Linked DNA regions of Homo sapiens. The protein of the gene in region 1 interacts with the protein of each later gene in a pairwise test. Each region holds a gene or a part of one and is shown in the gene's direction. Other genes may lie near its edges.

What was found.
Region 2: the proteins of LMTK2 (region 1) and PTPDC1 interact in a two-hybrid assay, tested with the Homo sapiens proteins (one study listed by BioGRID and IntAct).
Region 3: the proteins of LMTK2 (region 1) and DUSP19 interact in a two-hybrid assay, tested with the Homo sapiens proteins (one study listed by BioGRID and IntAct).
Region 4: the proteins of LMTK2 (region 1) and MTMR6 interact in a two-hybrid assay, tested with the Homo sapiens proteins (one study listed by BioGRID and IntAct).

What each region holds. Positions count from the first base shown.
Region 1 is NC_000007.14:98,193,846-98,200,870, forward strand, and holds part of LMTK2 (serine/threonine-protein kinase LMTK2 precursor), read left to right. Parts: coding exon 1-727; intron 728-7,025. UniProt on the Homo sapiens protein: Phosphorylates PPP1C, phosphorylase b and CFTR.
Region 2 is NC_000009.12:94,079,702-94,087,463, forward strand, and holds the start of PTPDC1 (protein tyrosine phosphatase domain-containing protein 1), read left to right. Parts: upstream 1-4,762; 5' UTR 4,763-4,829; coding exon 4,830-5,073; intron 5,074-5,549; coding exon 5,550-5,721; intron 5,722-7,762. UniProt on the Homo sapiens protein: May play roles in cilia formation and/or maintenance.
Region 3 is NC_000002.12:183,081,726-183,088,750, forward strand, and holds part of DUSP19 (dual specificity protein phosphatase 19), read left to right. Parts: intron 1-1,782; coding exon 1,783-1,829; intron 1,830-5,314; coding exon 5,315-5,467; intron 5,468-7,025.
Region 4 is NC_000013.11:25,249,484-25,256,508, reverse strand, and holds part of MTMR6 (phosphatidylinositol-3,5-bisphosphate 3-phosphatase MTMR6), read left to right. Parts: intron 1-1,436; coding exon of another isoform or gene 1,437-1,487; exon of another isoform or gene 1,488-2,060; intron 2,061-2,074; coding exon 2,075-2,124; intron 2,125-2,544; coding exon 2,545-2,745; intron 2,746-4,524; coding exon 4,525-4,656; intron 4,657-4,733; coding exon 4,734-4,860; intron 4,861-7,016; coding exon 7,017-7,025. UniProt on the Homo sapiens protein: Lipid phosphatase that specifically dephosphorylates the D-3 position of phosphatidylinositol 3-phosphate and phosphatidylinositol 3,5-bisphosphate, generating phosphatidylinositol and phosphatidylinositol 5-phosphate.

The sequences.
Region 1 (7,025 bases):
CTTGGTGTTGGTACAGGAGCAGCCCCTACCCGAGCCAGTCCTCCCCGAGCAAAGTCCTGCTGCCCAGGATAGCTGCCTGGAAGCCAGAAAGAGCCAGCCAGATGAAAGTTGTCTGTCTGCTTTGCACAACTCCAGTGACCTGGAATTAAGAGCCACGCCGGAGCCAGCACAGACTGGTGTTCCCCAGCAGGTGCATCCCACGGAAGACGAGGCCAGCAGTCCCTGGAGTGTGCTGAATGCAGAACTTAGCAGCGGCGATGACTTCGAGACACAGGACGATCGCCCCTGCACCCTCGCTTCCACGGGGACCAACACGAACGAACTCCTTGCCTACACCAATTCTGCGCTGGACAAGTCCCTGTCCAGCCACTCCGAGGGCCCGAAGTTGAAGGAGCCGGACATCGAAGGGAAGTACCTGGGGAAACTCGGGGTGTCAGGGATGCTCGACCTCTCAGAGGACGGGATGGATGCAGACGAGGAGGACGAAAACAGCGACGACTCGGACGAGGACCTGCGGGCCTTCAACCTGCATAGCCTCAGCTCCGAGTCGGAGGACGAGACCGAGCACCCCGTGCCCATCATCCTCAGCAACGAGGACGGAAGGCACCTGCGGAGTCTGTTGAAGCCCACAGCGGCCAATGCCCCCGACCCACTGCCCGAGGACTGGAAGAAGGAAAAGAAGGCAGTCACGTTTTTCGATGATGTCACAGTCTACCTGTTTGACCAGGTATCTGTTCCCTCTAAATCATTTTCTATACACATCCATATAAGGATTCCAAAATGTGCTAGGAAATTGAGTGTGGTCTGTTTTCTAGTTGCCATTTTGAGGCAGCAGATTGTGATTACTCACAAAAAGTAATTTGGGGTTGGTTAGAGTTCTAAGAATATGCAGAAATGTCATTTGCTCAGGGAGTTCGTATTAAATTAAGAGAAAGAGACCCGAATGCTCTTCCTGGGTCTTCTAATGGAGTCTTCCTGAATTAGTCACCCTTTACACACCAAATTTTTACTGTTTTACTTTTTTATTTTTCTTTTGAGACAGCCTTGCTCTGTGGCCCAGGCTGGAATGCAGTGGTACAGTTGCAGCTCACTGCAGCCTTGAACTCCTGGGCTCAAGTGATCCTCCCACCTTCCATAATAGCTGGGCCCACAGGTTCATGCCACCATGGCTGGCTAAGGTTTTGGTGTTTTTTTTGTTTTGTTTTGTTTTTAATTTTTGTAGACACACGGTCTTGCTATGTTGCCTAGGCTGCTCTCAAACTCCTGGGCTCAAGCCATCCTCCCACCTCAGCCTCTCAAAGTTTTGGGATTACAGGCATGAGCCACTGCGCTTGGCCTCCAATTTTTAGAGCCTGACAATTGGCAGTAGGACCCACCACTTGGGTACAAGCCTGGAACCATGGCTGGCGTGCAGCCCTGGAGACAGCTCAGGAGAGGGGCCAACCAGAAGCCCTGCGGTGGGTGTCTGGAGGGTGTGACACACAGCAGGAGCGTCTGTGGTCCTTCTGCTCTGTCCCCTGACCTGTCCTCTTTCCCTGCTTTGGAGCAGGCAGCTTAGTGTGCACTGCTGAGTGGGCATGGATTTAGGCTCCTTTAAAAATGTAACAGCGGATAATTCAAGCATGCTTTAAAAAAAAAAAAAAAGTTCTTTTCATACTAGTCTTTGTAGCCCTTGAATTTGCTGCTTGCATCAGCTGGATTGTTGGGAGAGCTCAGTGGTGGGACATGAAAATGGGGTCCCCTCACCTTCTAGAAGGCGCAGGAGTCCTCGCCGTCTCCTTCACATTGCTTGCCCTCCCTTTTGCTCCATTCTGGGAACCCAGACCTTGGTCTCAGCCCCTGCGTGGCACCATCCCTCATGGGTCCGTGGCTATGGCGGGTCCAAGCACTGTTCCACCTCCTCCCCCAGGAGCTGCGTCTGTTGAACGTCACTTTATGCCTTGTTCCTCTGTGTTCTGTTCACTTTGGTTTTTATGATGTTTCTTTAAAAATCGTTAAATCACCCGCATTTGAGCTATAGCATATATGGCGGGGAAGTGGATGTTTAAAAAATGAAAAGTAAGGCCAGGCGCGGTGGCTTATGCCTGTAATCCCAGCACTTTGGGAGGCCAAGGTGGGCGGATCACCTGACGTCGGGAATTCAAGACCAGCCTGGGCAACATGGCGAAACCCCATCTCTACTAAAAATATAAAAATTAGCCAGTCACGGTAGGCAAGACTGCAGGCCCAGCTACTTGGGAGGCTGAGGCATGAGAATTGCTTGAACCTGGGAGGCAGAGGTTGCAGTGAGCCAAGATTGCACCACTGCACTCCAGCCTGGGTGACAGAGTGAGACCTGTCTCAGAAAAAAAAAAAAAAAAGCAGCCTCCTGAGCTCAGCCTGACCTCTTGAACCTGATTCTGCGAGGGGCCAGGAGGCCGTCTTTCTCTTTTCATTCCCCAGGTGGTTCCTAGGCAGATCTCGAACTCAGGAGCCTCTGAGCTCAGGGAGCCTGAGAAAACACGCTGCCGTTTTCTAGTAAGAGTGGAAGGGAGAAGGGATCACCTGGCCCCTCGGGTTTGTGTTTTGTTTTCAATGCATCCACATAGCCCTTTCTCCACCGTCTCTGTGAACTTGGATTATCGCTGCATTTCTCCATGGATGGGGTAATGTATAGGTGGGACGGAACTGTCAACTGTGCTCGGTGAGCAGTGCGGTTAGGAGCTAGGGAGCACGCTGTCCCCACTTCCTGAAAGCCTGGGGGTAGCTGGAGTAGTGAGAGGGACGCAGTCCCAGTGGAAGCAGCCTGTGGAGAAAACTCCCTGGGGCCGCAGAGTATGGGCCCCTTGCACAAGTCTTTGTGGAGGATGTTATGTTTTTCTGACTTTAGAAGACAGAATTGCAAAAGATGAAGATCTGTGACAAGGGCACTCTAGTTATGGGATGGAAGGTACAGAGATCAAATACCAGACATGCTTAATGGACGCGAGGCTTTGACAAGGAAGTTAGTGTCAAGGAGAAAGTCGGAAGGTGGGTCAGGGCCAGAAGAAAATGAGGAAGATCTTTCTGATGATCTGAAATTCGTTTGCTTATGCGTCTCATGCAGCATGCCTTGAAGCGACAGCCACCAAGCGTTCAGGCCGAGGACTGAGGGTTTCCTCCCACTCCTGCTTTCTTTTTTAATGAGCTGGTTTTGAAGTTGTGTAGTTTTTAAGCAGTTGAAGTATCTTGGCTCCAAACTTTTAACTGAGTGTTCATGGGATTGGGCAGCAATTGTTTCTTGGTTATATTACTATTTGTCAGTTCAGCAAATACTTAACCAGCACTTACCGTGTAAAGTAGTAAAGGCTGGTGAACAGTCTGTGGGTGCCAGCACCTTTATTATACATTGAGTCTTGTTTTGCTTCCCCATGTGGGGGTGGTTGTCACCATCTTCATGGAGAGGACCCTGAGGCTCAGAGTAGGTAAACTTTGCACAGGGTCTGGCCCCAGTGAGTAGCAGTGCTAGGGCTTGACCCAAGTCTCCTGGACCGAGCACAGAACTTTTCACCACTGAGCCCTGCCACCTCTTGCATGCACCTTTACAATCTGCAGCCTGGCATCGCATTCGACTTTTAGCACTTGCGATGTCCTTCCTCAGTGCACAGTGTTCTTGAGACAAAAGTAGCGGGTAATGATGCTTACTTGCAATTAGTGCGACAGGGTTCCCTCCAGCCTGATCCGTCATACTGTAAACAAGCACTGAAGGCTGGGCACAGTAGCTCATTCCCATAATCCTAACATTTTGGAAAGCTGAGGCAGGAGGATCGCTTAAGGCCAGGAGGTGAGACTGGTCTAGGCAGCATAATAAGAACCGATTTTTAAAAAATTGGCCAGTTGTGGTGGCCCGCACCTATAGTCTCACCTGCTCAGGAGGCTGAGGCAGGAGGATCGCTTAAACCCAGGAGTTTGAGAGTGCAGTGAGCTATGATTGTGTCACTGCACTGCAGCCGGGATGGCAGAGTGAGACCCTGTCTGAGAGGCTCCTGCTCTCCAGCTTTGAGGAATAAACATTCAGGGCTCCACCTAGGTTTTTTTGGTTGGTTTGGGTTTTGTTTGTTTGCTGGCACTGTCTTTGGTTTTGTTATCAGAGTAATTAATGCTGGTCTCATAAAATGAGTTGGGAAGTATTTCCTTCTCTGATAGTGTTTGGAAGAGATTATGTAGATTTGTTGATCTTTCCAAAAAATTGCTTTTGTTTTCATGGATTTTTTTTTCTTTTCTCTTTCGTTGATTTCTGCTTTGTCTTTATTATTTCCTTCCTTCTCCTTGCTTTGAATTTATTTTGCTTTTTCTAGAAAAGCTTAGAATTCGAGACCTTACTTCTTTTCTCCTTTTTTTTTTTTTTTGAGACGTCTCACTCTGTCGCCAGGTTGGAGGGCAGTGGCGTGATATCGGCTCACTGCAACCTCCGCCTCCCGCGTTCAAGCAATTCTCCTGCCTCCACCTCCTCAATAGCTGGGATTACAGGCGTGTGCCACCGCGCTTGGCTAATTTTTGTATTTTTAGTAGAGACGAGGTTTCACCATGTTGGCCAGGATGGTCTCAATCTCTTGACCTCATGATCTGCCCACCTCGGCCTCCCAGAGTGCTGGGATTACAGGCCTGAGCTACCGCGCCTGGCCTCTTTTCTCTTTTTTTGAGACTGGGTCTCGCTCTGTCGCCCAGGCTGTAGTAGTGCAGTAGTGCGATCTCTGCTCACTGCAGCCTCCACCTCCCAGGCTCAAGGGATTCTCCTGCCTCAGCCTCCTGAAGTAGCTGGGACCACAGGCGCCCACCACCGTGCCTGGCTAATTTTTGTATTTTTTGTTTCGTCATGTTGCCCAGGCTGGTCTCGAATTCCTGAGCTCAGGTGAATCTGCCTGCCTTGGCTTCCCGAAGTGCTGGGATTATAGACGTGAGCCACTGCACCTGGCCTCTTCTTTTCTAATAATTTAATGCTATAAATTTCCCTTTATGTACTACTTTAGCTGCACCCAGCAAATTTTAATGTGTGAGTTTTCGTTTTCATTCAGATCAAAAAGTTTTTTGTAAGACTTCCTCTTGGGAGCATAGATTAACAAGTATAGTTTAATATATTAGTTATAATTAATAATTACTAATAATTGGTTAATATAGTTTAATAAGTATATTGTTTAATTTCCAAGAGTTGGAGATTTTATTGTATCTTTTTGTTATTAAATTTTAGTCTAATTCCATTATGGGCAGAGAACATATTTAATATGGTTTCAATGCTTTTAAATTTGTTAAGGTTTATCTTAGAGCCAGGATATGGTCTTTCTTGGTGAATTATTCCATGTATACCTGAAAGAGTGTGTATTTTGGTTTTGGTGGGTGGATCGTTCTATAAATGTCAGATTTAATTTGTTGATGGTATTAGTTCTTCTCTGTCATTGCCGATTTTTCTGCATACTTGTTCTATTACTCAGAGAGAGGTTGTTGAAGTCTCCAGCTGTGATTTTTAGATTTGTCTATTTCTCTTTTCATTTCTGTTTATTTTCGCTTCCTGTATTTTGCAGCTCTGTTGATGCATATACATTGAGGATGATGATGTCTTCTTGCTGAATTGACCTTTTTATCCTTTCGTAATGTCCTTCTGTATTCCTTTGCCTTATATTCATAGAGCTGCTCCAGCTTTCTTTCTTTTTTCGGAGACAGTCTCACTTTGTCACCCAGGCTGGAGTGCAGTGGTATGATTTTGGCTCACTGCAGCCTTGAGCTCCTGGGCTCAAGCAGTCCTCCTGCCTCAGCCCCACAAGTAACTGGGACTACGGGTGCACACCACCACACACAGCTAATTTTTGTATTTTTTGTAGAGATGGGGTTTCACCATGTTGGCCAGGCTGGTCTCGAACTCCTGAGCTCAAGCAATCCGCCCGCCTCGGTCTTCGAAAGTGTTGGGATTACAGGCGTGAGCCACCGCTCCTGGCCACGTTGTTTTGGTTAATGTTTGCGTGGTGTATCTTTTGCATCCTTTTACTTTTAATCTACCTGTATCATTATATTTGACATGAGTTTCTTGCAGATCTTATAGTTAGATGGGGTTTTTAAAACTCTGTTCTGAAAAATCTGCCTTTTAATGGTATGTTTAGATCATTTACCTTTAATAAAATTATTGATATTTTGGATTTACGTATACCATTTTATTTGTTCTATTTTTATTTCTATTCTTCCTCTTTTTAATAAATTGAACATTTTTAGTATTACATTTTTCTTTTTCTTTTTTTTTACACTGTTCTCTTTGCGTAGTTTTTGTAGTGGTTGTTCTGGGGGTTACAATGTATGTATTAAACTTCTCACAATCTACTTAGAATCTGTATTTGCATATTTCAGATGGAATGTGGAAACCCTACTGTCACTTAGGCCTTTTGCCCTCCGTCCCCTTCTTGACATGCTCTTCTATGTTGCATACATGTACACTGATAACTCCTCAGACAGTGCAACACATTTGACTTTCTGTCATCAAACACATTCTAAGAAACTCAAGAGGAAATGAATAGTATTATACAGTTGGCCCTGGAGCAACATGGGTTTGAACTGTGTGAGTGTACTTATAACATGGCTTCTTTTCAACCCAAAACAGATCGAAAGCACAGTATTCTCGGGATGTAGAACCTGTGTATAGATACGGAGGGCTGACTTTTTGTATATGTGGGTTCCGCAAGGCTAACCACAGGACTTAGTATGCACAGGTGTGGTTATGCACGGGTGGTCTTGTCACTGATCTCTGTTCAGATCGTTTCTGGAGTTGTCCCTTGGTTTCCAAGAAGTGGTGGTTCCATAATTTGGATACCATAATTAGAGGCTGCCCAAGTGCTTTATATGAAATGGCATCATATTTGCATATAACCTACACACATCCTCCTGCAGACTTTCAGTCATCTCTAGATTACTTATAATGCCTCATACACTGTAAATGCTATGAAAATAGTTGTTATACTGTATTATTTATTTTGTTGTTGTTGTTGTTGTTGTTATACTGTTATTTCTTATTTGTGGTTGTTTCT
Region 2 (7,762 bases), on another chromosome or scaffold:
AGCTTCAGAATTCTCTGTTTTTAAGGCCTGCTTCTCCTTCTGGCTGAAGTCTACTAGCCATGTCTCTGGAGCTTGAGGCGGGGACAACAGCCCACTTCTCTGAGTGATCCCCCTACTTTGCAAGGTGAGCAGGAATGATAGCTTCTGGTCTTCTTGGCTTGCCTAAGTGTGGAATCTTTGACCTACAGATGAGGTGGAGCAGGGGCACTTGGGAGAAGCCAGCCAGGGTGAGGAGGAAATCCATATGGGAGAGCAGCCCAGCAGTGGCGAAGCCTGAGCCAGATAACACCTGTGTGGGAGAGTGACCTGGCCCAGGTTATTAGAACATTCCCAGGCATCAGAGCTTGGGTCAGGTTGGGAGGGCTCCATGTGGCAGGGTGACCCTACATGGAATATTGGAACATAGGCAGGATGAGGAGAGCATCTACCCAGGTGGGTGGCAGCAGCAGCTTGGCATAGGTGTTAAAGCCCAGATGGGATGAGAGAGGCATCCACATGGAGGAGGGAGCAGAGGTAGTGATGGGAGACTGGTTACATGTAGGGGGCTTGGTCAATTAGGTAAATATATTAAAGATTACTGTGCCCAGGCTTCTCACAGAGTTATAATTATAGGTACAGTTGTGGAAAGGGTGGAAATTAGAGGAACTCTGTGGTGTTGGCTTGGAATTGGTAGCATCAGGGTAAACTCTTGGTTTTCCATATGTATATATGCCTACATATGGGAATAAATATAGATGTAAAGTGTGATAATGTATGTGCCTGTGCATAATATCCATATTCTTTAGCACTGTCCACTGAGAGGGCCTGGCAGCAGTAACACTCTAATGGCAATGAGCATACCTAACACACAGACATTGGTTTCTAGATACCGTTCTTTACTAATAAATGCAAGGGCTTCCGAGTCTAATCATGAGGAAACTGCATGCCCAAATTGAGAGAGATTGCTACAAAATAACTGGCCTATACTCTTCAAAAGTGTCAAGGTCATCAAAGTCAAGGAAAGACTGAGGAACTTGTTCAAGTGTGAAATAGGTGAAAGAAACAGGACAACTAAATACAACATGTCGTTTTACTGTAAGGAACATTTTTGGAGTAATCAGTGAAGCTTGAATGAGGTCTGAGGAATAGAGGGCAAGTAGTAATATCTCAACCATAATTTCCTGATTTGGGGTAATTTTCAAGAATATCTTTGTGGGAAATATACACTAAATTATTTGGCGTAATGGGGCAGCATTTCTGCAAGTTACTCTAAAAAATTCAAGGGAAAATATTCTTTTTTTCTTTTTCTTTTTCTTTTTTTTTTTTTTTGAGACAGTCCCGCTCTGTCACCCAGACTAGAGTGCAGTGGTGCAATCTCAGCTCACTGCAACCTCTGCCTTCCAGGTGCAAGCAATTCTCCTGCCTCAGCCTTCCAAGTAGCTGGTACTACAGGCATGCGCCACTACACCCAGCCCATTTTTGTATTTTTAGTAGAGACTGGGTTTCACCATGTTGGCCAGGTGGGTTTCTAACTACTGACCTCAGGTGATCTGCCCTCCTCAGCCTCCCAAAGTGCTGGGATTACAGGCATGAGCCACCATGCCCAGCCAAGGAAAAATATTATTTGTAACTTTTGTAACTTTTCTGTAAGTTTGACATTGATTCAAAGTAAAAATATAAAATATTCTCAAAAATATATGGGCCAGGCATGGTGGCAGGCACCTGTCATATTGGCTACCAGAGAGGCTGAGGCAGGAAGATTGTTTGAGCCTAGGAATTCAAGGCTGCAGTGAGCTATGATCACGTCACTGCTCTCTAGCCTGTGTGACAGAGCAAGGTGCTGTCTTTAAAAAAAAATTAAAAATTAAAACTAAAGTGTTCGATTGTGTTGCATGCTGCTGCACAGTCAAATAGAAACTCTAAAAAGTCCACCTCAAAACAGATCATCGGAGGCCTTAGCAAGAGTGGTTTGATTTGAGAGTGGAGGCAGAGGCCAGAGCTGAGTAGGCTAAGGATGAGACCTGTGACACGTGGAGATGGCAGGTGTAGTCACCTTGGTTTGGAGGTTTAGCTATGAAGGGGAGAGAAGAAGGGCCCTCAGAAGAAGGGAAATTATAGTGAAAGATCTGGAAACAATTACATATACCTAGGAATGTTTGAAAAACAGAAATAGGGAAAGTCTTGGAAAAGTTCTGTCTTCGGATATTTGAAAATCTTTCAAGACAAAGAGAAGCTTTATTCTTTATTTTCAGTGGGAAGAACCAGAACCGATGTTTATAGAATGGATTTTAACTCAACACTAGAGAACATTTGAAGCCCAGCGTGTTGGCAGGCATCTGTAGTCCCAGCTACTCAAGAGGCTGAGGCAGGAGGAGCCCTCGAGCCCAAAAATTTGAGTGCAGCCTAAGCAACAAAGTGAGATTCCCATCTCTAAAGAAGGAAGGAAAGAAAACATTTGAGCTGTCTAACAGTGGAATAGTCAGTTCCCTTGTGAAAAGTGAGCCTCTTGTCACAAAAAGTAGAGAACACGAGGCTGGAAATTCAGCTGTACAGCAAATTCCTGGAAGTAACTCCTCCGTGGACTTAAGAATGCGGATAGGTGGGCCTCCCACGCCCACCAGGCACCCACTGCATTCTCAGCCTATTGTTCTATGACTTTAGGAAGCAATGATCCCTTTCTGAAATCTTGAGTATAGAAGGAAATTACTAGTTCTTGGTGTTCTAGATCTCACTTTTCAGTGTTTTACCTGCCCACTTATAGAAATTAAGGAAGAAAAGACTCAGTACTCACTGGTACATTTTAGTGGGTTTCTTTGTTGTGTTTATTGTAACTGATTTCATATTTGTCATGATCAGTATCTCATTTTGTTCCTTAAATATTATTCTAAATTTGGTTCTCGTGTCCAGAGGTGGGTACATTTCTTTTCATCTGCCTCATCAATGCAAGGTATATTCACAGCACCTCATTGTTGGGAACACTGAGCAAGCATGCAGAAAGGGCTGCTTTCACCTTGCAGAATCCTGTTTGCGTTAGGCTTGACTTCCTTAGACATTGACACAGGGTCACTGACTGTACGGTAACTGGGGTAAGCTCAGTCATTTTGTGTTTATTTGAGGTCAACCCAGGGCTCAAGATTTCACCACAGAGATTATTCTTGAGGTGATCTATAAACCATCCCTTCCTTAGCTTGGTCCAAATAAGTCCTACCCCTACCCCTTATCTAATGAAATTAGTTGTCATTTTTAGTGTAGTTGAAAGCAGTTACTTTTGACTTTTCTCTGTAGATGTCCTCAGATGCTGGTTCTCCAGGCCATGGACTTGTTTCTGCAGAGCTCACCACTCTTGTTTCTCAAGAGCTAAGTTAACATTCTGGAGTGCCACATACTCAGAAGCACAGACTTGCCCAGAAATCTTCTTAGACTCCCTCTTACACAGATAGCAAATACACAGCTCCTTAGTTTGAGCATTTAGGGCCTCCTGCCAGTAAGTTCATGTTCTTGTCATGCAGACCTCTGTGCAACTGCTGTTTCTGTGTTGCCCTTAGGGTCCTGAGGGCCTTGCCTAGAATAATCCTCATATAATTCCTCCGACAGGAAAGCTGTGCTTTCTTCCATGGCTGCATTCTAAATAACAAAGGCATGATACTATACATAGAGTAGGAATTTGGACACCAAATCGGGATTCTGTGTCCCTGTCTTATTCGACAAAAGTGCACATTACTGGGGAGATGGGGGCGGCATTTTAAAAGGAGCTTGGTATAGCATTAGTAATCGTTAAAAAAAAAAAAATAGAAAATAGCCTTATCTGTAGCAGTACAGTAGTTTGTTTCTGTGCACACACATCTGAAATACCACTTGTGCAGAGAGCTAGCGAGCAAGCGAGGGCGCAGCCTGACATTAACAAGGGAGGAGGCGGACAATGAGTACATTAGTGGTTGTTGCACTTTCTGTTTTCTTTATATCCTTTATCTTCAAGTTGCAACCTCCCCCTCATCTAGTTCCTTTAAAAATGTGATATTTAGTGATCTTTCTTTGTATGCCTCTGCCAAGACATTATTGAAGCTTCTTTTTTCCCTCACTGCAACAAAAGGCAGAGAATGGTGTTTTGAGTTTTTGAGAGGCATGGCTACTATAACTGTCCAACAGAGGCATAACTAAGAATTGGGTTTTTATATTCTGAAAATGAACACATGAAGTTAAATGTCTTCTGATAATATATCACCTCTAAAAATGTCTTTATTTGTTCTATCCAAGTATTTCTTTAATAGTTTTACCAAGAAAAAATAGAAGTGGTTTTGGTTATGAAAAATTGGATGATATTTTAATAATCTTGTAAGGTGTCCAGCATATCCCACTTTATTACAATTAACTTTTTTCTGCACTATTCAAACGAGGAGTAGAAAGGTAATTTTTTTCAAAATATCCAGAGACAGGTTGTGAACAGAATAACAGAATTTAAGCCTTTTAACATGTATGTAAAAGGCAGTTTTTGCATCAGGAAGACAGTTTTCTAAATTCACTACAGTATTTTGGGGAGTAATTCTTTGGTTAGATATTTTAAGTGCATTTGAGAAACAAAATTTAGTAATCAATATATTTAAAATTTATATTATTCTTCCCTATATTTGAACAATTTGTCCAAAATGCAATCTGTTCATATTGGATTTTGCCTGTTCAGATCTAAGTGGGAATCAGTAGTTTCTTTGTTTGTCGCCATGGAAACCAGTCAGCCAATCTGAATGGCTCTTAGATCATACAGAACGATGCAATGCTCCCTGCTCTCAGTGAAAGTTCCTCACTGAGTGAGTGGGGCTGACTCTTCCTGCCTCCGGCTCTTGCCTCCCAGTGCCATGCAGGTGCAGGATGCAACCAGGCGGCCCTCAGCCGTGCGCTTCCTCAGCTCCTTTCTCCAGGGCCGCCGGCACTCCACCTCAGACCCAGTACTGCGGCTGCAGCAGGCCCGGCGGGGCTCTGGCTTGGGCTCCGGCTCTGCCACGAAGCTGCTGTCCTCGTCCTCTCTCCAGGTGATGGTGGCTGTTTCCTCAGTCAGCCATGCAGAGGGAAACCCAACTTTCCCCGAAAGAAAAAGTAAAGGTCTCTTTCTTCTTATAGATTGCCATACCTATGTATATAAGTTTGAGGAATGGGAATCAGCTGTGTTGTGTTTATACCTTTTTAAATATTGGCAGTTTATTCTATATTATACTTTTTGCTGTCTGTTATGCTATTTTAGTGAATATATAAGAGGATATAAAATGATCAAATGTTTTGTGTTTTTTTATTAAAAATATAGGTTTGAACAAAACTCATTCTCTTGTAAAACATCTGCTTCTACAGTTTCTTCCTCCTAATTGCCAGTATGTGTGGAGATTATTATATGTGAAAGCTTTTTTACATTAAGAGATATATGTCACTTTGACAGGGAAACAGTTTTGTTTTCTTGACAAGATGAAGGTGATTTTGCACTGGCTTGTCATCTACCATCCTGAGATAAAATGGAAGCTATTTCCCATGTTACAATTTCATTTGGAGAGTGGAATTTTGAATTTTCCTTTCCTTATATGTTCTAGGAAATTTAGAACGTCCAACACCAAAGTACACAAAAGTAGGGGAGCGTTTACGGCATGTCATTCCTGGACACATGGCATGTTCCATGGCGTGTGGCGGTAGAGCTTGCAAGTATGAGAACCCAGCCCGCTGGAGTGAGCAGGAGCAAGCCATTAAGGGGGTTTACTCATCCTGGTGAGTGATCCTGTTGGTCTTTCATAGCTCTGTTGGATACAGGAAGGACACTCTGTGTGAGCCAGGAGCCCTGAAGTGTGGGAGGAGCAGTGTGGGACTTTGAAGTCAGGACCTCACTTTGCCAGTCAGTTCTGGCTTTGCCTTAGCTGTGTGATCTTGGCCTATTGACCCTCAGTTTCTTTATCTGTAAGGTGGAAATAATAAAACCAAAACCATAGGGTTTTTTAATTAAGTGAAATGATATATATAAAGTGTATTGAAGAAATGGATAATTAGATAGCTCTTAAATTTCAGAAATGTTTAGAAATAATAAAACTTCAGCTATAAATTTGAGAAAATTATGATGTACATGTGTAATTTTTCAGTTTCATGTAGGTAAGCTTTAGCTTTTATGTTATTCCTATATTCTATATGAAAGGTCACATTTTCATACAAATACCCTTCAGTCTACCCTAATAAAAGTGGTACAAGTTGTCAGCTCAGTAGAAAACATAAGATATTTGCTTTTTTTATGGTGTATAAGTGAAATTAATATTGTTCTTTAATCATACTGCTTTTTATTAAACAGTAAACTAGTCAAATACACCTTTTTGATGTAGTAACATCTGAAAAATTCTGATAAATCACATTTGAAGCATACTTAGAGGAATTCACTGTTTAATTCTAGTAGTGAATTATTTTATACATCAAGAACCCATTTTTCAATTAGATATTTGTCAACTGGCTTATCCAGCTTACAACCTGTACTTTTTCATATTGGATTTGCTCAGTACATCTGTAGTGATATAGTCTGGGGTCCACTGTCATTATTGTTCACCACAGGTCATATTCTGGTCCATCACTATCATACTAATAGTATGAAGAAGGAAACATTCATAGTCAGACAAGAAAATTTCTAATAATGTAGCTTAGGTCATTTGCATATTTTTGCTTTATTGCTGACTAAATCATGTGAGTCTTTTTCACCTCTGCTGCTTTCACGTTACATCCCCCTTCATCTTACACTAATTATCACTGGGGGTCCAAACTTTTGGGTCCCATGTTAAACCATATGCCTTCTTTCAGAGGGAAAGGTGTCATTTTGGATCCTGCCCTGACAGTCTCTGTTATTCCCCTGAGATTCATGTGACCCACGACTTCCAACAGACTTACCTTATATATCTCATCAGGCCACTGATGAGAAATTTGAACAGAACAGAGTGAAGCCAGAGCCCAGAGGCCTGACAAGAGTAATAGTCATTTATTGGGCGTCTGCCCACTCATTCATTCAGTAAATATCCATTTGGCTGTAGGCCAGTCAGTGTGCTAGATGCTTTCATACTATTATCTTTTATCTTCATAAAACTCTTGTGAGCTGTTAATGCCATTTTATCAATGAAAGAATTGAGTTCCAGAGAGACCAAGTAATTTGCTACCAAGCTAGAAAGTAGAAGAGCCAGCATTTGAAACCAAGCCCAACTGACTCTGGAGCCCATATTTGTCACCAAATTACAGTAACTCAGTATTTATTCATAACTGCATGTCAGGATTTGTGCCAAAGACTTTACATCCACATCATATTGAATTCTCACACCAACCCTGTGAGACAGGCATTATTATCCCCATTTAACACCTTGTAACTAAGATTCAGATAGTTGAATAACAAAATATCTCCCAGTTGGCCCTCCTCATGTAAGTCACTACCCATTGAGTAACAATCCAGACTGTTACCTTCACCACCAGCTGAGTTTTCTCCATCATGTCCACTAAAATCTCTTGAGAGTTCTTGAAAATACTTTGCTGGAATCCACAAATAATTTATGTCTTGGAATTTTTTCCAGGGATTTAAGAAGCTAGAGTTTCTTAGAGCTCTAATCATCCAAAATTGAAGCCAGATTTGTATAAGAATATTCTTACACGGGTGCACCAAAATCTCAAAATTCACCACTAAATAACTCATCTATGTAACCTGAAATAATCTGTACCCCAAAAACTATTGAAATTTTAAAAATTAACCTAAAGAGAAAAAAAGCAAAGTATCTAACAGTGCCTTTACTAGACT
Region 3 (7,025 bases), on another chromosome or scaffold:
ATAGGCTAACTTTTAAGTATAATAAAGCTGAATGTGAGCTCAGTAGCGAACCTGTAAGCTTGGTATTATCAAGAGGATATTGGCCAAACAGCATACTTGCTGGCCTTTCAGCCACCTAAAATCACATAATAAAAGTTGGCTGAATTCCCAGATGGGTAACTTAAAAAAAAAAAAAGTTTATGAAATAGAACCTAATTCAGGAAAGTAAAATACTTGAAATCTTTAAACTGTGAAACTCACTTTATTTTGACTAGTTATTCTCCATATGAACTTGCTTATTAACTAGAGCCAGTTTCCAAGTGTGGGAGATCTGGGAAGCCGGCTGTGACAGAAAGAGATTGTAGAAGGGCACAGCCCTAGTGATACATGGAGTGTGGGTGGGATCCTGCAGACCAACAGCATTTGCTCTAAGCTACTGGGTGTTCCCAAACCAGCTGGCACAAAGTCATCTTGTGGGTGTGTGGTTTTTGTAATATCCTTTTTTAAGTTACAAAATAAAGAGATGTTTATTGTAAAAAGTCAGAATGAGCATAAAGAAGAAAAAAAAATCACCTGCAACCCCATTGTTAACATTTTGTTCTATGTATACCTCCTTTCCATTTTTTAAGCATATACATATTTTTTGTTGTTATAAAAATGGATGATGGTATTTTGTAACCTGCTTTTATAACCAGATACATTGAGAACATTTTTCTTTTTTTTTTTTTTTTTTTTTTGAGACGGAGTCTCACTCTGTCACCTAGGCTGGAGTGCAGTGGCACGATCTTGGCTCACTGCAACCTCTGCCTCCCAGGTTTAAGCAAGTCTCGTGCCTCAGCCTCCTGAGTAGCTGGGATTACAGGCATGCACCACCATGCCCAGCTAATTTTTGTATTTTTAGTAGAGATGGGGTTGTGCCATGTTGGCCAGGCTTGTCTCAAACTCCTGACCTCAAGTGATCCACCCACCTCAGCCTCCCAAAGTGCTGGGATTACAGACAGGAGCCACCACTCCTGGCCAAGAACATGTTTCCATGCTATACATATTTTACCACATTTCTTCTTTCTCTCTTTCTCTCTCTCTCCCTCTCTTTCCCTTCCCTTTTGTTCGTTCGTTCGTTCGTTCCTTCCTTCCTCCCTCCCTCCCTCCCTCCCTCCCTCTCTCTTCTCTTGTCTTGTCTTGTCTTTTCTTTTCTTATCTTTTCTTTTCTTTTGTTTTCTTTCTTCTGGCTGTGTCACCGAGGCTGGAGTGCAGTGGCATAACCATAGCTTACTGTAACCCCGAATTCCTAGGTTCAAGGGATCCTCCTGCCTTAGCCTTCTGAATACCTGGGAATACAAGCATGCACTACCATGCCTGGCTAATTAAAAAAAATTTTTTTTCTATAGACAGGGTCTCACAATGTTGTTCAGGCTTACATTTCTTATTTCTAATGGTGGTAATGGCTGTATGTATTTCACTACACAATTATACCATTTTTTATTTAATGCAACAGCTATTATTGGGCTTTTAGTGTTCTTTTGTTTTTGTTTTGTTTATATTACAAACAATACTATGGTGAACATCCTTACAGCTAATCTTTGCAACATCTATAACTTTTAGGACAAATTTTTAGAAGTAGGATTTCAGAGTCCAGGAGTTTATGTAGGATGACTGTTATCAAATTGCCCTTCAGAAAGTTGGACTAAGGTCCTTCCAAGTTGTTGGTCTTTTTTTTTTAATAACAGAATTGCTGTAGAAATTTATATAAAAGTTCAAGATGATTATATTTGTGTTCAAGGTGGTATCATTTATTTCTTCTAGGGTCACAAGATGCTGCTCATGATTTGGATACACTGAAAAAGAATAAGGTAAAAAAATGCTTTAAGTCTGGCACCATATACACAGAATATTTTAATTGTTTTATTTAGGAAAAACTGTATTGGTCCATCTTTGGTATATTATGGAGTTTATTTGGTAACATTTTGGCTATCATTTCAATAGAGTTGAAAAATAATTGGCACATAATTCAAATATGTGGATCTGTAATCTGTCTTTCCAGTTTTACATTCTTCTTGATCTCCTTCATGTACCCTCATGAACCTGACCTTGGAGGCATGTCTTTCTTGCCTGTGTTTATGTAGTTCCTCTGTGTGGGATAGACTTTCCCTCATCTCTGCTTGTCCAAGACCTGTCCATACCTTAAGTCCCAACTCACATACCACGTCTTCTGTAATGCCATTTCCAGCCACTCTACTCCATACAACTGATGTGATTTATTACATATTTACTCAAAAGGATTTTTAGCCCTCTACCATTTTTTTGAGTACTGTTTCAGGTCATGGAATTGCTGTAGGTGAAGGAGTGCAAGAGATTCTTGTTCACTTGAAGCGTATGACCTAAGGGGCAGACAGAGAAGAGAGACAAGCAGCTACCGAACAGCGTTTGTGTGCTTTGATGGGGAAGTGCAGGGTGCTGTAGAAGTGCATAGGAGATGATGCTCTTAACCCATGTTTGGTTTGGTTTGTTTTTGGGGGGATAAGTGAGTCAGGGGAGACTTCCTGGAGGAAGTGATATTGAAGTATTTCTCTGAAGAGGCTAGGAAAGGAGTAGACAGCCTGTAATCCCAAGGCTTTGGGAGGCCAAGGCAGGAGGATTGGTTGACCCCAGGAGTTCGAGGTTACAGTGTGCTATGATTTTGCTACTGTACTCCAGACTGGGCGACAAAGCAAGACTCTATCTCAAAAAAAAAAAAGAAAGTAAAGTGTTCATACAGAATAAATGATATGTGTGAAGGCCCAGAAGCAAGAGAAAGGTGGATGCTTTCAGGGACAGAAAAGTTCAGTGACCCTGGAATAGAGAGTGTGAGAAAGAAGGGCACCAAGAGACAAGGCCAGAGAGAGAGGTAAGCATGAGCCAGATCACAAAAGGCCATGTAAGCCAAAGTTAGTTGTGTGGACTTGATCCAAAAGACTATGGAAAGCCACTGAGAAGTTACCCAGAGATGTAACAAGGTCAAATTTGCAGTTCAGAAAGATTTCTCATTAGAAGCAGTGTGGAAAATCGATTGGAGGGTTGCTCAAGTTAGAGATGGGGGAAACTGGTTATAAAGCTATTGCAGTAATCTAAGGAAAAGATGATAATGGCTGAGATTAAGATTTAGTGGAGATAGAATTAGATAGATGTGAGGGGTTTTTTAGAGGGTAGAATTCTTAAAATTTGATTACTTATGAGGCAGGATAGGGAGTGGGGCTAAGGGAGAAGGAGGAGTCAAGGCTGATGTCTAGCTTTCTTTGGTAACTAAGTAAAGTTATCGTTCCATGAGATTGAAAGCAACGTAGAAGGAACAGGCTTTGAAGGAGAAACAGTGTGCTCAGTTCTGAACATGTTAGGTTTTGGGTGATGTGGATCATCTAGGTGGGTGGATATGTAGGGTCTGAAGTTCAGAATAGAGGTGAATATATAGATTTAGGAATCTTCAGCTTTTAAGTAGTTACTGAAACCATTAGAATAGATGAAGCTGCCTGGGGAAAAGTGTAAAGTAAGAGAGAAGAGGGCCTATGACAGAATCTTATCACAGAACTGATAAATTGAGGAATATCACCCTATATGGAATGATCAAACAAAGAAGAGTCCGCAGTGGGAAAGGAGGATCTAAAAGAGGCCCAAAGAAGGTAAAACAAAAAGATGGTGTCATGGAAACTAAAGAGAATAGTGTTTTAAGGAGGAGAGAGTCAGCAATGTCAGATGCTGTAAAAGTTTAAGTACGATTAGGACTAAATTATATCCATGGGACTTGGTGACAGAGAGGTTGTTAGTGCGTTTGGTGGAAACAGTTTCATTTGAATTGGAGGCCAAAGCCATATTGCAAAAGATTGAGAAGTGAGGAAGTGATGGCAAAGGGAAAAAAAAAAAGAGAGAGAGGAGCCATAGGTGAGGAGGGGGAGGGGAGAGCTTTGAGCATGTTTTAAGGCTGATGGTAGAAGAAGGAATTGAAGATACAGAAAAGCAAGAATTATGACTATAGGGAGATGCCAAGAAAGTAGGAAGCACTGTGACTCCAAGCACAGGTTCTGGAATGAGCCTTATCGAAGATGCACGAGCACATCCTTCATTGTAATCAGAAGGCAGAGGGGAAGTACAGATGTGGACAAGGTTGTTAGGTTTTTTTTTTTTTTTTTTTTTTTTTTTTTTTTTTTTGAGGCAGAGTCTCGCTCATTTGCTCAGGCTGGAGTGCAGTGGCATGATCGTGGCTCACTGCAACCTTTACCTCCTGGGTTCAAGTGATTCTCAGCCTTTGGATTATCTTAATGGACTGTCTGCCTGGCTTTCTTCCACATGGTTGGTGGACTCTAGGAAAAGGGGCTCAAATACATAGATGCAAGAGGAGGAGGTTGCTCAAGTGTACCATCTGAAAGAAAATATTTTACAACCACACCTCCCCTTACTTTTCAGCCAGATTGGTTCATCAGAATCTCTGGGTATGAGACCCTGTGTTATTGATAGTTTTTAAGAGTTCATCAGGTGACTCTAATGTGCAGTCATCCTGGAGAACCATTTTATAAAGTAAAGAATATGAAGGAAAATAGGGAAATAATTCTTGAAAGGGAAGTTGTATACCACTGATACACTTCTCCTATTTAAGTTTTTATATGGATATTCACAGATTAATTCAACAAAGATTTTAAGCATTTTCTGCTAAACTCACTGCTCATTCGCTTATAACACTAAGTTAAACATGGTCCCTACCCTCATGGAGTTTCTAGTGCAGTGAAAGAGAAAAACAATCTCTAAATGGCATGAGCTATAATAGGGCAAGTCCAGGGCTATGAAAATATATAGGCCAGGTGTGGTGGCTTATACCTGTAATGCCAGCACTGTGGGAGGCGGAAGTGGGAGCATCACTTGAGGCCAGGAGTTCGAGACCAGCCTGGGCAAAAAAAGTGAGACCCGCCCCCCTCTTCTCTGAAAAAAAAAAAAAAAAAAAAAATTAGCTGGGTGTGGTGGTACACGCCTGTAGTCCCAGCTACTTGGGAGGCTGAGGCAGGAGGATCACCTGAGCCTAGGAGTTCAAGATTGCAGTGGCCTATGATTGCATCATTGCACTCCAGCCTGGGTGACAGAAAGAGACCCTGTCTCTGCATGATGATAATAATAAGTTAAAAGAGAGAGAGAGAGAGAGAAAACATATAGTAGAAGGAGCACTTCTGGTGTGGGATTGAAGCAGTATTATCATTCAAGTGAGTCGCATTTAAATTTTTTACCTTTCTTGTTATAGATATCAACACCCCAGTCTCTTTTTAGGTAACCTAATTCATGGGATTTAAAACAATCATCTTTTTTCTTTCTCTTTAAGGTGACTCATATTCTTAATGTTGCATATGGAGTTGAAAATGCTTTCCTCAGTGACTTTACATATAAGAGCATTTCTATATTGGATCTGCCTGAAACCAACATCCTGTCTTATTTTCCAGAATGTTTTGAATTTATTGAAGAAGCAAAAAGAAAAGTGAGTTTTGTTTTGATCCATAGTTCTGCAGAAGCAGAAATTTGAAAGTGTGGATCCATTACCCAATCTTTATTATTTTTATAATGAATCTCTAAAAAACAATTATGAAATTTCCCTTCTAACAATATTTCATTATTTCCTACAATTATTTGGTTAATTGCTCTTTTTTCAATGAGATGTTTAGTTTCAACATTAATTCAGACTATAAAACAGAGACTGCTCTAGACTTGTTAGTGTATTTATGATGATTAATATGCATTTGATTTTAATGAATGAGATAGTTATTGTGAAACTATGCATTTTTAGCAGTAAAATTTTAAGGCACTCTAAGGACTAAATGTGTATTGCTTTACTTAGATTGTATGAAAATGCTGATCAGAAACTGTCTGTTGGTTTTCTGAAGTTAGAAGACCAATAGCCAATGTCATATAGTACTTCAGGCTTGTTATTGAAGTCAACATTCTGACAGGCAAAGTTTCTAGGTTGGCTGTTATCAACAATTATTCCTTGAAATGTCATCATTTTTAGTCAGCAAATAATTCTTACAGACTTTATGTAAGATACGTAGATGGGAAAGTAGAAGCATTTACAGAGAGAAATAACTCTTCTGGAACACCTAACAATGACAGGATTACAATCAGGTTTAATTGAACTCTGGCCTACCTTCTCTCCCTTTATCTTTTCTCCTTCCCATTTTCTCTTCCTCTCTCCCTTCTTTCCTTTCATTTAGTAATATTTATTGAATGCCTTAGGTGCCCAGCACTGTTCTACGTGCCTTCCTACTAGACTACCCAGAAAATATAAAACTATTCAATTCTACTGTTCATCAACTTTACTTAATAGCAGATACAGTCATGCACTGCATAATGATGTTTGGACTGCATATATGATGGTGGTTCCATAAGATTATAATAATGTATTTTTACCATACCTTTTCTATGTTTATGTATGTTTAGATACACAAATACATACCATTGTGTTACTGTTGCCTACAAGTCAGTACAGTAACATCTGAACAGGTTTGTAGTCTTGGAGCAATAGGCCATACCATTCTAGGTTTGTGTGAGTGCACTCTGTGATGTTTACACCACGAAGAAACTGCCTAACAACACATTTCTCAGAATGCATCACCATTGTTAAATGATGCACGACTGTATTTGGATGGAAGCAAAGGAAGAGGTTTTTTTTGTTTTTTGTTTTTTGTGTTTTTTTTTTTTGTTTTTTTTTTTTTTGAGATGCAGTCTCACTCTGTCGCCAGGCTGGAGTGCAGTAGTGTGATCTCGGTGCACTGTAACCTCCGGCTCACTGCAACCTCCGCCTCTCGGGTTCAAGTGATTCTCCTGCCTCAGCCTCCCAGGTAGTTGGGACTATAGGAGCACACTGCCACACCCGGGTAATTTTTTGTATTTTAGTAGAGACAGGGTTTCACCGTGTTGCCCAGGCTGGTCTTGAACTCCTGAGCTCAGGCAGACCACCTGCCTCAGCCTCCCAAAGTGCTAGGATTACAGGCATGAGCCACTGCACCTGGCCAAGGGAGAGGTTTTTTAATTCAAAGCCT
Region 4 (7,025 bases), on another chromosome or scaffold:
ATTTTCATTAGTCTTGAATTATTAAATACAGTGCCATCTTAAAGCAAAGGAAGATTTAAAATCACCAGTCCCTTTTCAGCACCGCTATTTTTTGCTGCTAACATACCGACTCTGGGACAGGCCAAGCGGGAGTGCTGCTAATAAGAAAATAATGCTCAGCTTACCTTGAGAGTGTACGATAAGGAATATTTTCTTTGCCATGTTTGGCTTTAATTATTTGTTAGACATCCAAATGAAATCATGTAATAAATGGGGATGATGTGAGAGCTTCCCAGGCAATAGGAACAGTGTAAATCAAAGCATAACCTCTTTGGGTGACTGCAGGTAATGTGTGATGGATGGAGTTCAGAGTGAGTATTAGAATAGGGGGCTTGGAGGCAGAGGAATAGAGTGGGGTCAGGGCCTGAGAAAGAGAAGGCTGGAATGGGGCTTTCCCCTCTTTGGATAATGGGAGCTATTAAAGAGTTTTAAACAAGCAAACAGTAACTTGATTAGATGTGCTTTTTAAAAAGGTGGCTTGGTATCTTGAAGGCCAAAGGGAGTGGGAATGGAGGCTAGGAGGCGAGTGTAGACACTATTATGATAACTTATGAGACAAAAGTTTTTAATTTTACCAAACTAAAATAGTAACACACAAGTGAAGGGGGAGGTGATGGGTTCCAGGGATGTTTAGAGAGTAGAGTCAGTGGCTGGGCGCAGTGGCTCACGCCTGTAATCCCAGCACTTTGGGAGGCCAAGGCGGGTGGATCATGAGGTCAGGAATTCGAGACCAGCCTGGCCAATATGGTGAAACCCTGTCTCTGCTAAAAATACAAAAATTAGCCGGGCATGGTGATGTGTACCTATAATCCCAGCTACTCAGGAGGCTGAGGCAGAAGAATTACTTGAACCCAGGAGGCGGAGGTTGCAGTGAGCCAAGATTGCGCCACTGCACTCCAGCCTGGGCAACAGAGTGAGACCCTGTCTCAAAAAAAAAAGAAAGTAGAGTCAGGAAGAATTGATCATGGATTGGATGTGGGATAGAAGAGAGGAGTCTTCCTCTGGGATGATTTCCAAGTTTCTGAATTAGGTGCCAGGATGGATGGTGCTGCTCTCTGGCTCTTCACTGAGATAAGCCAAAGAATACATTTAGTGAGAAAGATATTGAGTTATGCTTTAAACATGGTTTTGTAGAAGAATGGCAGAGAGACCAGAATAAAATCTGTGGCTCCAGCCACAAGGTCACACAAAGTGGTGAAGCTGGGATTGGAGCCTGTGCCTGAGCTCCAGCGACTACATCCTCAGCCACATCAGTGTATAGCCTTCTGCGGAAAGCAGAGGCTTGAGACAAAATCAGAGAAGCTAAAACCAGCAGTTTTGACACTATGAAAATAATGTGCTTGGTGACTGTATAGTTAAGTGATAAAGTGTACTAAATACTACAAATATGTGTTTAGATTAGACTGAAAAAGTTAGAAATCTGTTTTTACAGTGGAGTGGGTAAGTAGAGAAGCTGTGGCAAGGAAAACATAAAGTCAGTCCATTCAAGAGGATAGATGTTAACACTTGGATCTGAACATGAACTCAAGTAAGATGATTTGATTAAAATAATTGGTCTTTTTATCATTAGTTTTTTTTTCTTAAAAAAAGTAGTATATAAATAATATAAAAAATGTACAAGTAAGCCAAAAGTTTTAAAATATCCACCTCAGTCTACCACCTAGAGTTATCCTTTGTTAGCAGTTTTGGTTTACATTTTTCTAGCCTTTTTCCTATGATATATCATCTTCATACATACAAAAACTTAAATGTAATACTGCTTTATAACATGTACTTTTCACTTAAAATGTAATAAATTCAACGGAAATAATTTAAGTCACGAAACTACTCTATTTCTTTTTATGCATTTTTATTCTTCTTTAACCCCACCTCGAATCAAGGTTTTGGCATTCTTTTGCCTGTGGTTTTTTGTGCTGTTTTGTTTATAAGTTAAAAGTGTACAGTAAATACTGTTTTTAAACTAATAAGATTTAATCCAGCCTAAACAAAATAATTGAAAGTAGTCAGAAAGTGAATTTTACTTTTTCTCATTAAGGTTTTAATAGAAAAGGATTGGATCTCTTTTGGACATAAATTTTCAGAGAGGTGAGTCACAGTTACACAGTCATATATTTTATAAAATTAGTAAACCAAGTTTAGAATGCCAAAATGTTTCTGTTCCTTATGAACTCACATGCGTGATGGGAGGTAAGAGTGTCATGGTTTTTACTGTATTTTACGTAAAGACATTTAATTTTTTTCTGTAATTTCTTTCAATTCTAGTACGCTTGTTAATTTTCATGACTATTTATTACCTTCCTTTTGGGCTGCATTTTATTTAGAGATGGTAACAGATCCTTTAAAGCTGTGGTTTAAAAACTCATAAATGGTTTCAATAAAAATTCTAGTTTTGCATGCTAATGTAACAGTGCTTTAGGAATATTTTTGTATGTTTAAGATTAACAATACCTGAACAATGGACCTTTCAGAGGTGTTTTTAAAAGCTTATACTTTCTGTGGGGTTAGGTGTGGCCAGTTGGATGGTGACCCAAAGGAAGTCTCACCAGTGTTTACTCAGTTCTTGGAATGTGTGTGGCATTTGACCGAACAGTTTCCACAAGCCTTTGAATTCAGTGAAGCATTTCTTCTTCAGATCCATGAGCATATTCATTCATGCCAGTTTGGAAACTTCCTTGGAAATTGTCAGAAGGAAAGAGAAGAGCTCAAGTAAGATGATTCAATTAAAAGAGTCTCCTTTTCCCCCTACTTAGCCGAGGTCTAACAAAAATCATGTTTGAAACTTAATAAAATATCTTGACAATTTGAAAGTTTATTGTAAAGATTTTATTTTTTGTATTTCTAAAGCTGAGTACCCTTCTAATATTCCCCCACCTTTCAGCTAATAGTAAAAGCACATTATAAAATGTGTTTTGAAGTGTAGCATACATACAGAAAAGTACATAGAGCGTTAAGTGTGAAGCTCAGTAAATCTTACCAAACTCACACACCTATGTAACCAGCACCCAGAATATGAAATGTTGTCAACACCCTGGAAAGTCTCCTCATGCTTCTTTTCGGTCTGCATTTATATATTTTAGAACAGAGAAATCCTTATGCTGTTTAATTTCCCAGAATGTATCAGTCGCTAGTTTTAAAGTGTAAAATATTTTAAACTGTTGGTTTGTTTTAAGATAGGATGGAGCCTTATAGCTCTCCCCACATTTCTAAACAGACAGTTCTTTGGGGAAAATAAATCTAGCTATGTTGGCTGCAGCGTGTCCGTCCTTGAGTAGGGTCTCAGAAAAGCCCTGAGACACTACTTGACCCTAGTTCATGTTATTTCCTGACCAGTCTTCGGGGATAGGGGTTTTTGCCTAAATTTTGCTGTAAGGAAGATCTCTGGAGTAGGTCTTAGAGGTCCTATGTATATTGTTTTAGGTTGGGCTTCTGAGTTTGGATTTCTTTATTGCCTCTTACAGTAGGCAATAAAGAGCACTTAACAGACTTTTGAACATCCAAGGGACATATTAAGGAAGCTAAATCTGGTAGTATTTGAAGATAGCCACATGCTCACACTCCCAACAGAGTAAACAGCAGAACTGAGAGCATGTGGAAAATTCTAAAAATGCGTAAAGGGAATAAAAAGTGAATAGAGAATGGTGGAGATGAACAATCAAAGAACATTGAGGCTTTAGCTCTATGTTACAGTGATTCAAAATAGTTTATTATAATTTGGAGCACAGAGGTAACTCTTTTCCTGGAGTACAGAGCTATTTTAGGAAAAACTATTCTTAATTAGTGCCAAACATTCTCAAAAATGGAAAGATGGAAGTAAAAGTAGATATTTCCTAGTAGTTTTTCTCCAAGACACACCTATGGGTCATCTTAGGAGTTATGGAAAAATCAGGAGATTTTCCACTTTCCCCCTGGATACCTACATTATGTTTACTTGGTAAATGTCCAGTCTAAAACCATTCTTACCTTTGCCCAGCTACTCTTAGATTTGCAAAATAATTGGCTTTTAAAATTCTTGCATAACATCCTGATTTTGCCTGTTCCCTTTTTGTACCCACTCACACTTACGTGTGCTCCTGCCCTATGATACTCGCCACTACGGCCCAGACGTGGGGTTAAGAGAAGGCCAGACAGAAAGATGCATTAGTGTCTTGTTCTATGTGTATGTTTGTGGTGATTTGAAGTAGGTGGAACAGAGACCAAGTTTTTGAAATTGTGTGAGTTGAGAGGAATCCCTTAAAATATATGGTTGTGAGAGAAAATGTTATACCTGTGTTGTGTTCAAGAAACATGACTTTATTACCTAATTATGAATGAAAAAGGAGAATAGAGATAATACAGAATTCTGAGACAAGGTTAGACTGTGAATACAAGAAAAAACTAAAATTTAAATCTGCTTCGGAAGCCATCGCCTGATTTATAAAAATGAATATTACCATTACTACTTTGCATCTATAGGAAAGATCTCTGTGTTTTTCTCATTATATTAAGGTTGAAGGAGAAGACTTATTCCCTGTGGCCATTTCTTTTGGAAGACCAAAAGAAGTACTTAAATCCTCTCTACAGTTCCGAATCTCACAGATTTACAGTTTTGGAGCCAAATACAGTATCTTTCAATTTTAAGTAAGTTGACATCATTGGAGTATTTATACTTGAATTTTCTCAAACACAATTTATTGAAACTTTTTTTTGTCATAAAGGTTTTGGAGGAACATGTACCATCAATTTGATCGAACACTGCATCCTAGGCAGTCTGTATTTAATATAATTATGAATATGAATGAGCAAAATAAACAATTAGAGAAAGATATTAAAGACCTAGAATCTGTAAGTATTCTGAAGTATCTAATATATTTGGAATGTGAAATTAGTTTACGATTAGACTAATATTTGTATTGTTGGTGTAAATCAGCACATAAACTTCTGAAGTAAGCAGTTTCTTCAAAATCAGGTCATCCCTACTTTGATTGAATACGTTAGTTCGAATCACTTTCTTTGTATTTTAAAATACATTAAAATACCGGAAGTATATAGCATAACGTATAGATAAACATAATAACTATCTGTGTACCCACCAGCTAGCTTTTGTGGGATTTTAACATTTACTATATATGCCTCAGATCTTTCTTGTTCTTGTTTTAAGAAATAAAACATAGGCCGGGCGCAGTGGCTCACGCCTGTAATCCCAGCACTTTGGGAGGCCGAGGCGGGTGGATCACCAGGTCAGGAGAGTTTGAGACCAGCCTGGTCAGCACAGTGAAACCCCATCTCTACTAAAAAAATAACAAAAAAGTAGCCGGGCATGGTGGCGCATGCCTGTAATCCCAGCTACTTGGGAGGCTGAAGCAGGAGAATTGCTTGAACCTGGGAGGCGGAGGTTGCAGTGAGCCAAGATCATGCCTCTGCACTCCAGCCTGGGTGACAGAGCAAGACTCCATCTCAAAACAAAAACAAACAAAAAAAAAAGAAATAAAACATAGATCTATTTGAAGACCCTCTATACTCTTACCCAGTCTTCACCCATGTATCACAATTTATAATACTGTTTTTCTTGACTTAAAATATTTTTACTGTGTATTGAAAAAATACCAAAGACTATCTATAATGTTTGTATGAGTTGTAAAGGGAAACAGACAATGTATAGGCCAATATACCCTTCACTCTGCTTAAGAAACTGATGTTTTAAAACTATATAAAAGTTACCATACTGTTTATGTGCTTCATTTTGCTCAACAGTGTTTTGACATTTATCCATGTTGATACATGTAGCTTTTATTCATCTTTTTATTAGTAACTACTATATAACTTTATATTATATGAATATATCACAGTCTATCCATTCAGCTATGGATGAATATTTAAATTGTTTTCAGTTTTGGATTTCCATGATTACAAATGAAGTTAAATGACTTTCCATATTTGTTGGCCATTTGGTTTTCCTTTTCTGTGAATGGACTGTTCAAACCTTTGCTCATTTTTCTGTTGGCATATTTGCCTTTTTCTTAGTGATTTGTAAGAGTTGTTTATATGCCAGGCACTAATTCTTTGTTAGTTATATATATTACAAATGGTTTTGTCCAGCCTATTGTCTTTTCCACTTTATTTATGGTATGCTATATATAGATGTTTTGAATTTTCATGTCAAATTGCTCAATGTTTTATGCTTTCTGTGTGTGTCTTGTTTAACAAATCCCTCTCTACCCTAAGACTTTCCTATAATCTTTTTTCTGCCATCCTATATAAGCAAAAAGGATCAGTAAGTATATATATATTTTTTAAATCCTAGACAGTTATAACAGTAAGACTGTCTCATCTACCTCTCAGGCAGGAGTCTCCCTTAGTCATCTTTTAGATAAAGAGGTAATGACTGCTTGAGTAAATTGTAGAAGGATATGGTCAAGAGAGGCAAGTCCAGGATAATAGGTAATACAAGATTATCGGGACAGTCCAAGAATTTGGAGAGCATGATACTCTGCCACAGGACACTTTAAAAATCTTCTGTTAAAAAAGTAAAGTTCTGTTGTGTTTAAAGTCTGTTATTTTTACCTAACAAACCACTGTAGGAAAACCATGTAAGAAAAACTCTATATAGTCAGTGAGCCCTTTAGCTACACAAGTTTGTTTGTTGTGTTTTCAGGGTGAATGTTTCATACACATTTCTTTTATTATAAATGTTTACCTGTTATGCTTTCTAGGTAATATATGTCCATTTTAAGTGTGGAAGCCTAGTGATCGCCTGCAGTCAAGTCTTGCTGGATTGTTTGTTTAATAAATATAAAAACTAACAATTTTCCACAGCAAAAAATTGTACACAATTAGGATTTTCAACCATGTCATATGCATTAAATGTTTCTACTTTTTTGAGATTTAGTTTTGCATTATACATACAGAGAACATATTTTGCAAAAGCATGTTTTCTTTTTTCATGTAACATATTGTGGCTTATGCAATTAGTAATTTTTTCAAATTTGTGTTTGTTCTAGAAAATTAAA